Homo sapiens: one gene and its partners. The protein of the gene in region 3 purifies or fractionates together with the protein of the main gene of each other region. This does not show direct contact. Each region holds a gene or a part of one and is shown on either strand. Other genes may lie near its edges.

Evidence for each region.
Region 1: the proteins of ZNF765 (region 3) and TRIM37 purify together in Homo sapiens (co-immunoprecipitation; one large-scale study listed by IntAct). This does not show direct contact.
Region 2: the proteins of ZNF765 (region 3) and ARK2N purify together in Homo sapiens (co-immunoprecipitation; one large-scale study listed by IntAct). This does not show direct contact.
Region 4: the proteins of ZNF765 (region 3) and PPM1G purify together in Homo sapiens (co-immunoprecipitation; one large-scale study listed by IntAct). This does not show direct contact.

The regions. Positions count from the first base shown.
Region 1 is NC_000017.11:59,100,381-59,103,880, reverse strand, and holds part of TRIM37 (E3 ubiquitin-protein ligase TRIM37), read left to right. Parts: intron 1-3,500. UniProt on the Homo sapiens protein: E3 ubiquitin-protein ligase required to prevent centriole reduplication. Probably acts by ubiquitinating positive regulators of centriole reduplication.
Region 2 is NC_000018.10:46,240,034-46,243,533, forward strand, and holds part of ARK2N (protein ARK2N), read left to right. Parts: coding exon 1-154; intron 155-3,500. UniProt on the Homo sapiens protein: AMPK substrate important for exercise capacity and skeletal muscle function.
Region 3 is NC_000019.10:53,401,649-53,405,148, forward strand, and holds part of ZNF765 (zinc finger protein 765), read left to right. Parts: intron 1-416; coding exon 417-543; intron 544-3,500. UniProt on the Homo sapiens protein: May be involved in transcriptional regulation.
Region 4 is NC_000002.12:27,399,592-27,403,091, reverse strand, and holds part of PPM1G (protein phosphatase 1G), read left to right. Parts: intron 1-3,500.

The DNA of each region.
Region 1 (3,500 bases), on a different chromosome or scaffold from region 3:
AGGTCAAGAGATCGAGACCATCCTGGCCAACATGGTGAAACCCTGTCTCTACTAAAAATACAAAAATTAGCTGGGCATGGTGGCATGTACCTGTGTCCCAGCTACTTGGGAGGCTGAGGCAGGAGAATTGTTTGAACCCGGGAGGGCAGAGGTTGCAGTGAGCCGAGAGAGCGCCACTGCACTCCAGCCTGGCGACAGAGTGAGACTCCGTCTCAAAAAAAAAAAAAAAACTTGAATGTTGGCCTGAGCGCGGTGGCCCAGGCCTGTAATCCCAGCACTTTGGGAGGCCGAGGCGGGTGGATCATGGTGTCAGGAGTTCGAGAACAGCCTGACCAACATGGTGAAACCCCATCTCTACTAAAAATACAAAAATTAGCTGGGCATGGTGGTGTGTGCCTGTAATCCCAGCTACTCAGGAGGCTGAGGCAGGAGAATCGCTTGAACCCAGGAGGCGGAGGTTGCAGTGAGCCGAGATCATGCCAGTGCACTCCAGCCTGGGTGACAGAGCGAGACTCTGTCTCAAAAAAACAAAAAACAAAATAACAAAATGAGGAAGTCCAAGATTTTGGTTGTGTATGCGAGAGTCCAATAGCACATCTACAGAGCATAGTTGAAAACTGCCTTGTTCACATTCCCCTTCAATTATTTATTTTCCTGAGAAAATCAAAGAGGTCACATGCTCTTCACCTCAAACTTTCTGTTTCAGCTGGGCGCAGTAGGTAGCTCACGCCTGTAATCCCGGCATTTTGGGAGGCTGAGGTGTGTGGATCACCTGAGGTCAGGAGTTCGAGACCATCCTGACCAATATGGTGAAACCCTGTCTCTGCTAAAAATACAAAAATTAGCCAGGCATGGTGGCATGCTCCTGTAGTCCCAGCTACTCGAGAGGCTGAGACAGGAGAATCACTTGAACCCGGGAGGCAGAGGTTGCAGTGAGCAGAGATGGTGCCACTGCACTCCAGCCTGGCGACAGAGCGAGACTTCGTCTCAAAAAAAAAAAAAATTTCTGTTTCCTTATTCTTGCCTAAGGAAGATACATATGCCTTTGTCAAGAGTATTATCCGTAACACTTAAATAATTTTTTTCTAGTCACACAGCTCACAATTGATGGTACTGGATTTGAACCCATTAAGTTCAAGAACTCTATAGCCTGTTCTTTGTCACTGTACCATGCGCAGAAGACCCAGTTAAATATGATGTTAGTTCTCATACTTCTAAAACTAAGAGATTCACTCTTTCTTGGCCTTCTTTCTTCAGCTGTAGAATTCAGATATGATTTGCTTTACAGGGTGGTTATGGCATTAAATGAGATAACCTAAGGAGTAATTCAGAAATTATGAAATACTATATCTACTTGTTTGTAAGGTGTTATTTTATTGTTAAAATAGCAACTAATACACATTAACACTTACCCATGTTTTAATAAACAGTGAAACTGATGCTAGATAAATTAAGTAATTGGACTCCGTTATAGTTAATTAAGTGGTAGAATCTGGATCTGGGCGCATTTCTTTTGATGAAGGTCCCATGTGCTTATGGTCTCTGGTTGTTACCTTATGCCTCATTGATTCTGTATTTTTTCATTGTTACATCTTCTTCCTCCTGCCCCTTAAATGCATTTATTTCTTAATTTCCTAAGATCTTGTTGCTGTCGTTCTCTACTCTGAGGTTTCTGGGAGTATTCACCTACTTTGGGAAATTTGATTTACTTTAGCAGCTTTAGCTATCATCTCTGTGTGTATGGCTCCTAAATCTATTCCTTCAGCACTGACTTTTGGATGTCTTGTCCTTCTAGCATCTTGAACTTTGTTCAAGATCAGATTATTCATATTATTTTCTCAAACCGATTCTAAGTTCATTCTTTTTGTTCTGTTCTGCTAGTCACTCAAACTGGAAACTTTATACCAATGATTTTTTTATTTTTTATTTTTTATTTTTTTTTGAGATGGATTCTTGCTCTGTTGCCCAGGCTAAAGTGCAGTGGCGTGATCTTGGGTCACTACGACCTCCGCCTCCCAGGTTCAAGAGATTTTCCTGCCTCAGCCTCTCAAGTTGCTGGGAGTATCAGCGCACTCCATGATGCCCGGCTATTTTTGTATATATATATGTATATATGTGTGTGTATATATGTATATATATAAACATGTATATGTATATATGTGTGTGTGTGTGTGTGTGTGTGTGTATATATATATATATATATTTTTTTTTTTTTTTTTTTTTTTGTAGAGATGGGGTTTCACTATGTTGCCCAGGCTGGTCTCAAACTCCTGACCTCAACTGATCTTCCCTCCTTGGCCTCCCAAAGTGCTGGGATTACAGGCATGAGCCGCTGCCTCTGGCCTATACCAATGATTTTTAAGTGCAATTAGTTATTATCTCCCTGTTTCACTTATATTTGTCTTACCCTTCTGTTTTTATCATTACCATGCTAATAGAGAAGTATGAACATTGGTTACCTCATGCTTAGATTATTTAATTACTTTCTGTCTGATCTCTCAGGTTTGAGTCTTTTCTTATCTCCAGTCCATTTTCTGTCCTGCTACTATATTAATATTTTTCACTGATATCTCTTTCTTTTCCCCAGAAGCCTCAGAAATGTATTATGTAAAGGATAAAATCCAAGAATGTTAGCCTTGTGTTCAGACCATCCAGATCTGGTTCTGACCTTTCTTTCTAGGGCTGTCTTGGTTCCTGAATGCACTAATCATTTGTTCATTCATTCAGCAAATATTGATTGCTTGCCTACTTGTTTTCAAGCCAGTCATTTTTTATTAGGTATAACTGACATGCAGTAAACTACACATATTTAAAGTGTACAGTTTTTTTGTTTGTTTTGTTCTTTTTTTTTTTTTTTTGAGACGGCGTTTTGCTCTTGTTGCCCAGCCTGGAGTGCAATGACGCGATCTCCGCTCACTGCAACCTCCATCTCCTGGGTTCGAGTGATTCTCCTGCCTCAGCCTCCCAAGTAGCTGGGATTATAGGCATGCATCACCACGCTTGACTAATTTTGTATTTTTAGTAGAAACAGGGTTTCACCATGTTGGTCAGGTTGGTCTCAAACTCCTGACCTCAGGTGATCCACCCACCTCAGCCTCCCAAAGTGCTAGGATTACAGATGTGAGTCACTGAGCCTGGCCAAGTGTACAGTTTTGACATATATGTATTCTTGTGAGACAATCATTGCATCCAAGTTAGTGAATATATCTGTCATCCCCAAAAGTTTCCTTGTGCCTCTTGGTAATTCCTCCCTCTACTTGCCTTGTCCCCAGGCAACCATTGATCTGCTTTCTGTCACGATAGATAAGTTTGCTTCAGAGATAAGGGGGATGGAAAAAGAGAAAAAAGATAAGTTTGCATGTTTTGGAATTTTATACAAATGAAAATCATACAATATGTACTCTTACGGATCTGGCTTTTTTTCACTCAGCAAAAATACTGTATGTATCAGTAGTATTCCTTTTTATTGCTAAGTAGTATTCCATTGTATGTATTTACCA
Region 2 (3,500 bases), on a different chromosome or scaffold from region 3:
ATGTCTGACACCAACTCTGACCCAGAAGTGGTAAATGTGGACAATTTATTGGCGGCTGCAGTAGTTCAAGAGCACAGTAATTCTGTAGGCGGCCAGGACACAGGAGCTACCTGGAGGACCAGCGGGCTTCTAGAGGAGCTGAATGCAGAGGCAGGTTGGTCTTCCCCATCCCCCTTCTCTAACGGTGTAATATGCATGTGTCCTGGAGCTGTTTTCCTTGTAGTGGACCCTGATGAGGAGAACAGGTCATACCAGAGACATCTGGCATTGAATGATTGGTTGTGACTATCCAGGCTGCCATTTATACCTGAAACAATTTGGATAGCTTGTCATTCATCTTTCCTACTCAGAAGGAAGTAGAAATAAGAGCATTTAAGACATTAATTGTAGGTATTGGTAGGTTTCAGTAGGCATATTTCTTGGATTAAAAATGCCCAATATTTGCAAAAATGACCCAGATATGCTCATATTCTTTGGCCAGTTCTTTCTCTCACTTTAATTCTGGGTAGTGACCTTGCAGCTTGGATAGGGAATCGTTGAATCTCTCCCTGTGGGGCTGGCTGTTCATACACAGCGCTGCCGCTGTTTCTTGTGCTTCTTGCTGTGGAGTGACCCTGTTAATTCCTCGTCAGTAAGTTCTCATTTGTCTTTTCTAACTCCTTTCTTTTAGTTTCTGTCTCTGTTAGCTCAGGAAAAAAAATCTCTGTCCCTGTCTTACATTTTTTTAGTTTTGTGATTATTCTTTAAGGTGGTATTTATTCACTAAAAAATCCACTGCTGTTACCTTTGAAAAACTTTCACAATACCTCCAAGTCTTCTTCAATATTTTCTTCAAAAGTTTCTTTCAGCATTCTAATTTAAACCTTGTTTTGTTGTTGTTGTGAAAATACTAGCACTGAACATTTAAGAAGAGAAGGGGATTGAGAGACTGCTTATGCAGTGTATAATTTCTTCAGTGTTGCTGAAAGATTATAGTTTTCTAGTTAATTTATAAATGCATTGGTTTTATGAGTTAATCTAATAGTTTAATCACTACCTAAAGTTATTTTTATGAAAAATGAGTTTTACAAAAAAATGAGTTATAGTTTAGAACTTTTTATATTGAGACAGAACTCCATTGATTGTTGTTGTCTTAAATTATTCCTTTCATAATCTTTGATTGGAATTACAGAAAAATCACTTGTTTGTTGACCTGATTGATTTACTGTAGCTAATTTTGGAACTGAACCTGAATTTAGTTTTGATTTTTTTTGACTGGTAACTGCTGCCTGTTTGTCCTTGGACCAGTTGTTTCTCCTCTGGACTTCAGTTTTTATATGTATAAATCCTTGTTTTGCCCAACAAGTGTCTTTTAAGGATTTATTAATATGTATTAATACAAATACTTTGAAAAGAAGTAATAATGCTTCTGGGCACAGTGGCTCACGTCTGTAAGCCCAGCACTTTGGGAGGCCGACGTGGGAGGATCACTTGAGGTCAGGAGTTCAAGACCAGCCTGATCAGCATGGTGAAACCCCGTCTCTATTAACAATACAAAAATTAGCTGGGCGTGATGGGTGTGGTGGTGGGCGTGGTGGTGGGCGCCTGTAATCTCAGCTGTGGAATTGCTTGAACCTGGGAGGCAGAGGTTGCAGTGAGCTAAGATTGTGCCACTGCACTCCAGCCTGGGTGACAAAACTAGACTGTATCCCCCCAAAAAAGAAAAAAGAAGTAATAATGCTTTATATCAGTGGAAAGTAGTTTGGCCACATTTTGTACAATATGTGTTTCTAAGTTATTTATTTATTTATTTATTTATTTGAGATGGAGTTTCGCTCTTGTTGCCCAAGCCAGAGTGCAATGGCGCGATCTCAGCTCACTGCAACCTCCGCCTCCTGGGTTCAAGCGATTCTCCTGCCTCAGGCTCCTGAGTAGCTGGGATTACAGGCGCGCACCACCACGCCTGGCTAATTTTTTGTAGAAATGGGGTTTTACCATGTTAGCCAGGCTGCTCTGGAACTCCTGACCTCAGATGATCCGCCTGCCTTGGCCTCCCAAAGTGCTGGGATTACAGGCGTGAACCACTGCACCCAGCCTTGTAATTTGTATATTAGATGGTTTATCTTTGTTTTTCATCCTTTGGCAATTAAGTCATCCATTCCACTTCAGTTTTATTTCTCTGTTTTCTGAGTCTTGCCGTTAAATATAGACCATTTTATGGTAAAGTTTTGGGGTAAAAAATGAATGATTACCAACGTTTTGCTCTTCATATGCAGAATTCTTAATATTAGATTGAACCGTATGGAATTGTTAATATTTGACTTTTTGACCTACAAAAAATCAGCCATTTCTTATGACTTGACCGAATAATGCAAAGTTTGCGGTTTTAAAATATCATTAAAGTTTAGCTTTTGGGATGGCATTCACATTTTCAGATTCAAGTAATTGTTAGCCTATTTAAAAATCACTCTTAAGAAACTACAACCATTCTTTTTAAGAAATAAAACGTGGTAAAAGTATGTGAGGAGGAAAACAACTGTGGCTTCAGATGTTTTCCTTCCCTTTGCCCTTCCCATGCCAAAGCTATCCTAAATTGGATATTTAATGTGTGGTATTCCTGTGTATTTCTTTATATATTTGTACTACATTTGTTATATATCTAAATAAGCATGTTTTTAAAACTAATTGGTATCACATTGAAGGTAATCATTTGAAATGTGCTTTTTTAGTTAAACATTTTATGAGTTTTGTTGTTGTTATGTGTGGCTCTAGTTCATTCATTTTCCACTGCTATTTAGTATTCCACTATATGAATATATCACAATTTACCCATTCTCTTGTTGGACATTTAGGGTGCTATTTTAAGTGATACTGCTCTTAACATTTCTTTATGTGTTTTTTGGTATATGTATATGATAATTTCTCTAGGATATAATTAATATATAGAGAGAGCATTTGTGCATATTGGACTATAAATTTTGTGTAGGTTTCTGTATATCATAGGATGCAGTCACCACTGCTCAGCAGATCCCCATGACATTTTGTTATGAAGCTTATTGGCTCTTTCAAAGGCATTTTTTTTTCTTAAATCTGACAATACTGGTATGTGGGTAATAAATAAAAATAATACTGTAGTCTTGATGTGATTATCATAGTGGAACTCATCTTGTGAAGATATCTGAATGTGCTTACAGTGTCTCAATAAAATATTAATAGAATTTATGCTTAGGAGCCAGTTAATAGTTTTGAGGCTTGGACTATTAGTCAGATGGTCATTCTTATGGTGTGAGTGTAAGTTAAAATTTTAATGGTTAATCTGGGTCCTGTCTTTCCCTTTCACAACAAAATAGCAAGCCTAGTTATTGAGCAGACTATTCAGGGGTTCACTTTAATCAACAGCAGCATCTCAACCCAGGTCCACAGCCCCATCCCATTTAGGATCACATAGGTACGCACTAAAGATAGAGTAGGTTGCCTTTTTCCAAGCAATTAGATGATTATCTTGCATCCAAAATATATAT
Region 3 (3,500 bases):
AGGCAGATCAGGAGGTCAGGAGTTTGAGACCAAACTGGGCAATATGGTGAAACCCCGTTTCTGCTAAAAATACAAAAATTAACTGGTCGTGGTGGCACGTGCCTATAATTTCAGCTATTCAGGAGGCTAAGGCAGGAGAATCGTTTGATCCTGGGACTTGGAGGTTGCATTGAGCAGAGACTGTGCCATTGCACTCCAGGCTGGGCAACAGAGTGAGACTCCACCTTTAAAAAAAAAAAAAAGAACTTTAGTAAACACAACTGGGAAGACAAAATGCGGTGAAAAATCCCTTACTCAGATTTGTTAGAACATTCACTGCATTTAAATCCATGCCTTCACCTCTCTCTTCTTCTCATTTTCTGTAAAGATAAGAACTCCTCCCATAACCATTTGGTTAAAATGTGTTTTCATTTCAGGGTCTATTGACATTCAGGGATGTGGCCATAGAATTCTCTCAGGAGGAGTGGAAATGCCTGGACCCTGCTCAGAGGACTCTATACAGGGACGTGATGCTGGAGAATTATAGGAACCTGGTCTCCCTGGGTGAGGATGACTTCCCTCCTGGGGATGTGCCCTTGCGTATCTTTGTATTTTCTCTCCTTTTTTTTTTTTTTTTTTTTTTTTTTGAGATGGAGTCTCGCTCTGTCGCCCAGGCTGGAGTGCTGTGGCATGATCTCGGCTCACGGCCAGCTCCGCCTCCCGGGTTCACGCCATTCTCCTACTTCAGCCTCCCAAGTAGCTGGGACTACAGGCACCCACCAACATGCCTGGCTAATTTTTTGTACTATTTTTTACTAGAGACGGAGTTTCACCATGTTAGCCAGGATGGCCTTGAAATCCTGACCTCGTGATCCACACACCTCGGCCTCCCAAAGTGCTGGGACTACAGGCATAAGCCACCGTGCCCGGCCTATATTTTCTCTTGTTTTTAGATAAAGTGTCTCTCTCTGTCAGCCCGGGTGGAGTACAATGGTGTGATCATGGCTCACTGCAATCTTGAATTCCTGGGCTCAAGTGATTGTCCCACCTGAGCCTCCCCTGGTAGCTGGTACAGGTGCATGCCACCATGTCGGGCAACTTTTTTAGTTTGTTTTTTTTCCAGACAGGGTCTTGCTGTGTTGTTGAAATTCATCCTGATCTCCTGGGCTCCAGAGATCCTCCTTAGTCTCCCGAGTAGCTGGGATTACAGGTGCCAAACCCCATACCTAATTATTGGCTTTTATTTTAAAAATTTTTGCATATGTGCAGCTGGGCATGGTGGCTCACACCTGTAATCCCAGCACTTCGGGAGGCTGAGGTGGGTGGATCACGAGGTCAGGAGATCAAGACCACCCTGGCCAACAGGGTGAAACCCCCTCTCTACTAAAAATACAAAAATTAGCCAGGTGTGGTGGCACGTGCCTGTAATCCAGGCTGAGACAACAAAATCACATGAACCTGGGAGTCAGAGGTTGCAGTGAGCCAAGATTGCCACTGCACTCCAGACTGGCGACAGAGCGGGACTCTGTCTCAAAAAAAAAAAGAAAAAAAAATTTCATATGTGTGTCCTTAAGGCTGAGTCTGTGAGTCTCTTGTAGACAACATGTAGTTGATTCCTGTTGATTCAGCCAGTCTTTGCCTTCTGAGTGCAGATTAAATACTTACAGTTGAAGTATTACTGATGGAGAAGACCTTACCCTTGTGATTCTGTTACATATTATCTGTATTTATTGTAGGTTTTTTTGTTCTTCATTTCTCATTTACTACTTTTGTGTTTATTTGCTTTTTTGTGTAGACATGCTTTGACTCCCTTCTTATTGACTTTTGTTTGTTTGTTTGTTTATGATGGAGTCTTACTCTGTCCCCAAGGCTACAGTTCAATGGTACGATCTTGGCTCACCGCAGCCGGCTCCGCCTTTCAGGCTCAAACAATTTTTGTGCCCCAGTGGCTCACGCCTGTAATCCCAGCACTTCGGGAGGCCGAGGCAGGCAAATCACCTGAGGTCAGGAGTTCAAAACCAGCCTGCCTAACATGGCGAAACTCCGTCTCTACTAAAACACACAAATTAGCCGGACACTGTGGTGGGCGCCTGTAATCCTGCTACTCAAGAGTCTAATGCAGGAGAGTCGCTTGAACCCTGGAGGTGGAGGTTGAAGTGAGCCGAGATTGTGCCACTGCCCTCCAGCCTGGGTGACAGCACGAGACTCTGTCTCAAAAAAAAAAAAACAACAACAACAAAATTCCATAACCTGCAAAAGCCACTCTTTCTCTACTAGAACTCTGTATTTATGTCAGAATTATTTCTCTGTATGTTGCATTCGCATTAACATATATGTAGTGTTTTTTCATGCTTTTTTCTTCTAAATAACAGAAAAAAAAGTTGAATTATCTAGAGAAGGTATACTTACACCAGTTTCTGTATGTGTCCTGTTATTTGCCTATTCATTTATTTATTTCTTTGTTGATGAGATGAAGTTTTGTTCTTGTCGCCCATGCTGGAGTGCAATGGCACAATCTCGGGTCACTCCAACCTCCAACTCCCAGGTTCAAGTGATTCTCCTGCCTCAGTGTCCTGAGTAGCTGGGATTACAGGCATGTGCCACCACACCTAGCTAATTTTGTATTTTAGTAGACACAGGCTTTCTCCTTTTTGGTCAGGCTGGTCTCGAACCCCTGCCCTAAAGTGATCCACCAACCTCGGCCTCCTAAACTACTGGGATTATAGGTGTGAACCACCGTGCCCGGCCTGTCTTTTTATTTACCTTTACTGGAGAACTTTATATATATTTGTGGGTTGGAGATACTCTTTAGAATTCTTTCATTTCTTTCTTTTTTTCTTTTTAAGACGGAGTCTCGGTCTGTCACCCAGGCTGGAGTGCGGTGGTGCGATCTTGGCTAACTGCAGCCTCTGCCTCCCAGGTTCAAGTGATTTTCCTGCTTCAGTCTCCCAAGTAGCTGGGACTACAGGCACATGCCACCACACCTGGCTAATGTGTGTGTGTGTGTGTGTTTGTGTAGAAATGGGGTTTCACCCTGTTAGCCAGTATGTTCTTCATCTCCTGACCTCGTGATCCTCCTGCCTCAGCCTCCCAAAGTGCTGGGATTACAGGCGTGAACCACCATGCCTGGCCAGCCTCAAAGTTTTTAAAACACGTAATTGCTATAGATGGCTTCAGGTATTGCAAGATTTATGGTACAGGCTCTAAACTTCCTTTGTTTAATCAGATTTGTCAGCCTTCAGTGATGTTGATGATGAGATGCTCCTGTTCCTGCCTCAGTCATTTCACTGTCAGAAATAGCTTAGACTGGCCACCCGAGGTGGCTCACACCTCTAATCCCAACAGTTTGGGATGCCAAGGTGGGCAGATCGCTTGAAGTCAGGAGTTTGAGACCAGTCTTGCCAGCATGGTGAAACCTCAAATCTACTAAATACAAGAATTTGGCCGGGCACGGTGGCTCAAGCCAGTTATCCCAGCACTTTGGGAGGCCGAGAGGGGCAGATCACCTGAGGTCAGGAGTT
Region 4 (3,500 bases), on a different chromosome or scaffold from region 3:
AAGGAGTATGGGATTTCTTGTGCCGGTTCCTTCACATCCTCACTACACTTATCTGCCTTTACAGTGGCTCGATCATAGTTCACTGCATAGCCTTCTGGGCTCAAGGGGTCTTCCAGCCTCAGCCTAATATAGGCACATGCCACCATGACTGGCTAATTTTTTTTTTTTAAGTTTTTTTTTGTAGAGATAGGGCCTTGCAGTGTTGCCCAGGCTGAGGAATTTTATTTATGTTTATTTTATTTATTTATTTATTTATTTATTTATTTATTTATTTATTTATTTATTGAGATGGAGTCTTACACTGTCACCCAGGCTGGAGTGCAGTTGCGCGGTCTCAGCTACTGCAAGCTCCGCCTCCCGGGTTCATGCCATTCTCCTGCCTCAGCCTCCCGCGTAGCTGGACTACAGGCGCCCGCCACCACGCCTGGCTAATTTTTTGTGTGTGTTTTTAGTAGAGGCGGGGTTTCACCATGTTAGCCAGGATGGTCTCGATTCCTGACCTCGTGATCCACCCACATCGGCCTCCCAAAGTGCTGGGATTACAGGTGTGAGCCACCATGCCTGGTCTAGAAATTATTTTATATTTTATACCATTGCCTTATAAGTTCTCAAGCAACTGGAAAATACAATCAGAACGTATTCCTCAAGATTTCAAGGATATTTTACACAAAGTTCTATTGTCTGATTCCTTAGCAGTTGTTACTACTGTTTCCCTAACCTCTAATCTTCTATTGGGTTATTAGTCTTAGAATTGAATTTTGAGAGGTAAGGGCTTGAATTTGAACATAGAAATTTATACAGGTCTGATCAGTAGTTCTTGACATTGTATTATCTGGAAACAAATCTTTAGAACTGAGCTTAAGATGTTTAATGACATTTTGTAGACAGAGTATGATTTCAGTGTAGTTGTTTTTGTTTCTTTCTAGATCTAGTTCAGAGATGAAGTATATCAACTTTTTTTTCCTTTTTGACCCAATGCTAGCAGAAAAACAACACCTTTTAATCATATTTAGTATTTGAAAATGTGTATACAGGTTCCTTTTTATTTTATTTATTTCTTACAGGTTCCTTTTTAATCAGCTTTATTGAGATAGAGTTCATATACTGTATGGTTCATACCACATATGGTTCATATACCATACAGTATATGAACTCACTTTAAGAGTATAATTCAGTGGGTTTAAGGGTATAATTCATTCATTTTAAGGGTATAATTCAGTGGCTTTTAGTATATTTTCTTTTTTTTCTTCTTTTTTTCTTTTTTCGAGACAGGGTCTTGCTCTGTTACCCAGGCTGGAGTGCAGTGACGCAGCCTCAGCTCACTGCAACCTCCACCTCCCAGGTTCAAGCGAATTCTCTTGCCTCAGCATCCTGAGTAGCTGGAACTACAGGCTCACGCCACCACACCCAGCTAATTTTTATATTTTCAGTAGAAACAGGGTTTCACCATGTTGCCCAGGCTGGTCTCGAACTCCTGGCCTCAAGTGATCTGCCTGCCTCAGCCTCCCAAAGTGCTGGGATTACAGGCATGAGCCACCGTGCCTGCCTGTTTTGTAGTGTATTCAAACAGAGTTGTACAACTGTCACCACAATCAGTTTTAGAACCCCAAAAAGAAACCCTGTACTCTTTACCAGTCACTCCCTATCTTCCGTCCACTAACCCCTGGCATCCACTAATTTACATGACCTCTATGAATTTGCCTATTCTGAACATTTTATAAATGGAATTCTAAATACACTACCTTTTATATCTGGATGCTTTTACTAAGCATGTGTATTTTTGAAATTGACTTTAAAGCTTGTTGGCCCCTGGAAGAGTAAATTACTCTCCACCCCAAGTATTCCCTCTACCCCTCAGCTTTGCCTGTAAGTTTCTTTTTAAAAAAATCACACATACATTGTTGTAGTAGATTTAAGAATAAGTATTTTGCTGACCCAAGGTTCTTTTGCTTCTTTCTAGATCAGTGCCTTGCAGGTTTTATTTTACAGAGCTTAATAGAATCAGAAATCTCTTTAAAACTCCAGTCTCATATCCAGTTATCACTCACCATCTCTGTGTTTGCAGCAATAGCCAGGCCTGGCCCAGAGGGACTTGATCTCCACTTTTGGTTTTTAGACTTTTCTGTGGCTTTTACCACCTGCTGTGTATCCTTGACCTCATACTGCTGGACTCCTTTGGATGGATACCAGCAGGATGGTTCAGGCTCCAGTGGGCACTTTTTAAAATTCTCTCCTTCTGTTCAGATAGACAGAGCTCAGGCAGATCACCAAGTCTGTTGCCTGTGTAACCAGGAAAGAGATGCTAGTTTTCTTTTAGGCACTCCCATTTGTTTCTGTTGGAACCTTCCTCACTTAGTTGATGGAAGGGAAGCAAAAGACCCAGAACTCCATCTCAAATTAATGACTTAACAATTCTTGAATTTTCTCTTATCTCCTAGTTAACTCTTTTTCTTATCTCCAGGAGGTCAGTTTTAATTATTGTTGTTTATTCATTTATTTTCATGGAGACAGGGTCTTACTGTGTTGTCCAGGCTGGCCTTGAACCCCTGGCCTCAAGGAATCTTTTCACCTCAGCCTCCCAAAGTGCTGGAATTACAGGCATGAGTCACCACACCCAGCCTGATATTTTTCAGTTGATGTATCATAGTTGTGCCTAAGCATAATTTTTTAATTTTAATTTTTTATTTTTGGGGACAGGGTCTCCCTCTGTCGCCCAGGCTGGAGTGCAGTGATGCGATCTCAGCTCACTGCAACCTCCACCTTCTGGGTTAAAGCGATTCTCCTGCCTCAGCCTCCCGAGTAGCTGGGACTACAGGTACCCACCATCACACCCGGCTAAATTTTTTGTGTGTATTTTAGTAGAGACGAGATTTCGCTGTGTTGCCCAGGGCGGTCTCGAACTCCTGAGCTCAGGCAATCCGCCTGCCTCGGCCTCCCAAAGTGCTGGGATTACAGGCATGAACCACCACGCCCGGCCAAGCGTAATATTTTTAAGGGTCATCAATGTTGTGTCATGAATCAATCAGTGTTTCGTTCTTTTTTATGGTTGAATAATATTCCATGGTATGGATTTGTCACATTTTGTTTATCCATTCATTAGTTGATAGACATTTTGGATTTCCACTTTTTTTTTTTTTTTTTGCTATTATAAATAGTGATACTATGTACAAATTTTTGTGTGGAAATATGTCCTCATATCTCTTGGTTATATACCAAAGAGTGGAAGTGCTGGGTCATATGGTAACTACGTGTTTAACATTTTGAGAAACTGCTAAACTGTTTTCCAAAGTTGCTGTACCGTCGTACATTCCTGCCAGCAATATATGAGGATGCCAGTTCCTTCACATGTTCACTACACTTATCCACCTTTTTTATAATAACTAATGGTGGGTGTGAGATGGTATCTCATTGTAGTTTTGATTTGTATTTCTCTGATGGCTAAATGGCTAATGATGTTTGAACTTTTTGTTTGAGACAGAATCTCACTCTGTCCAGATTCA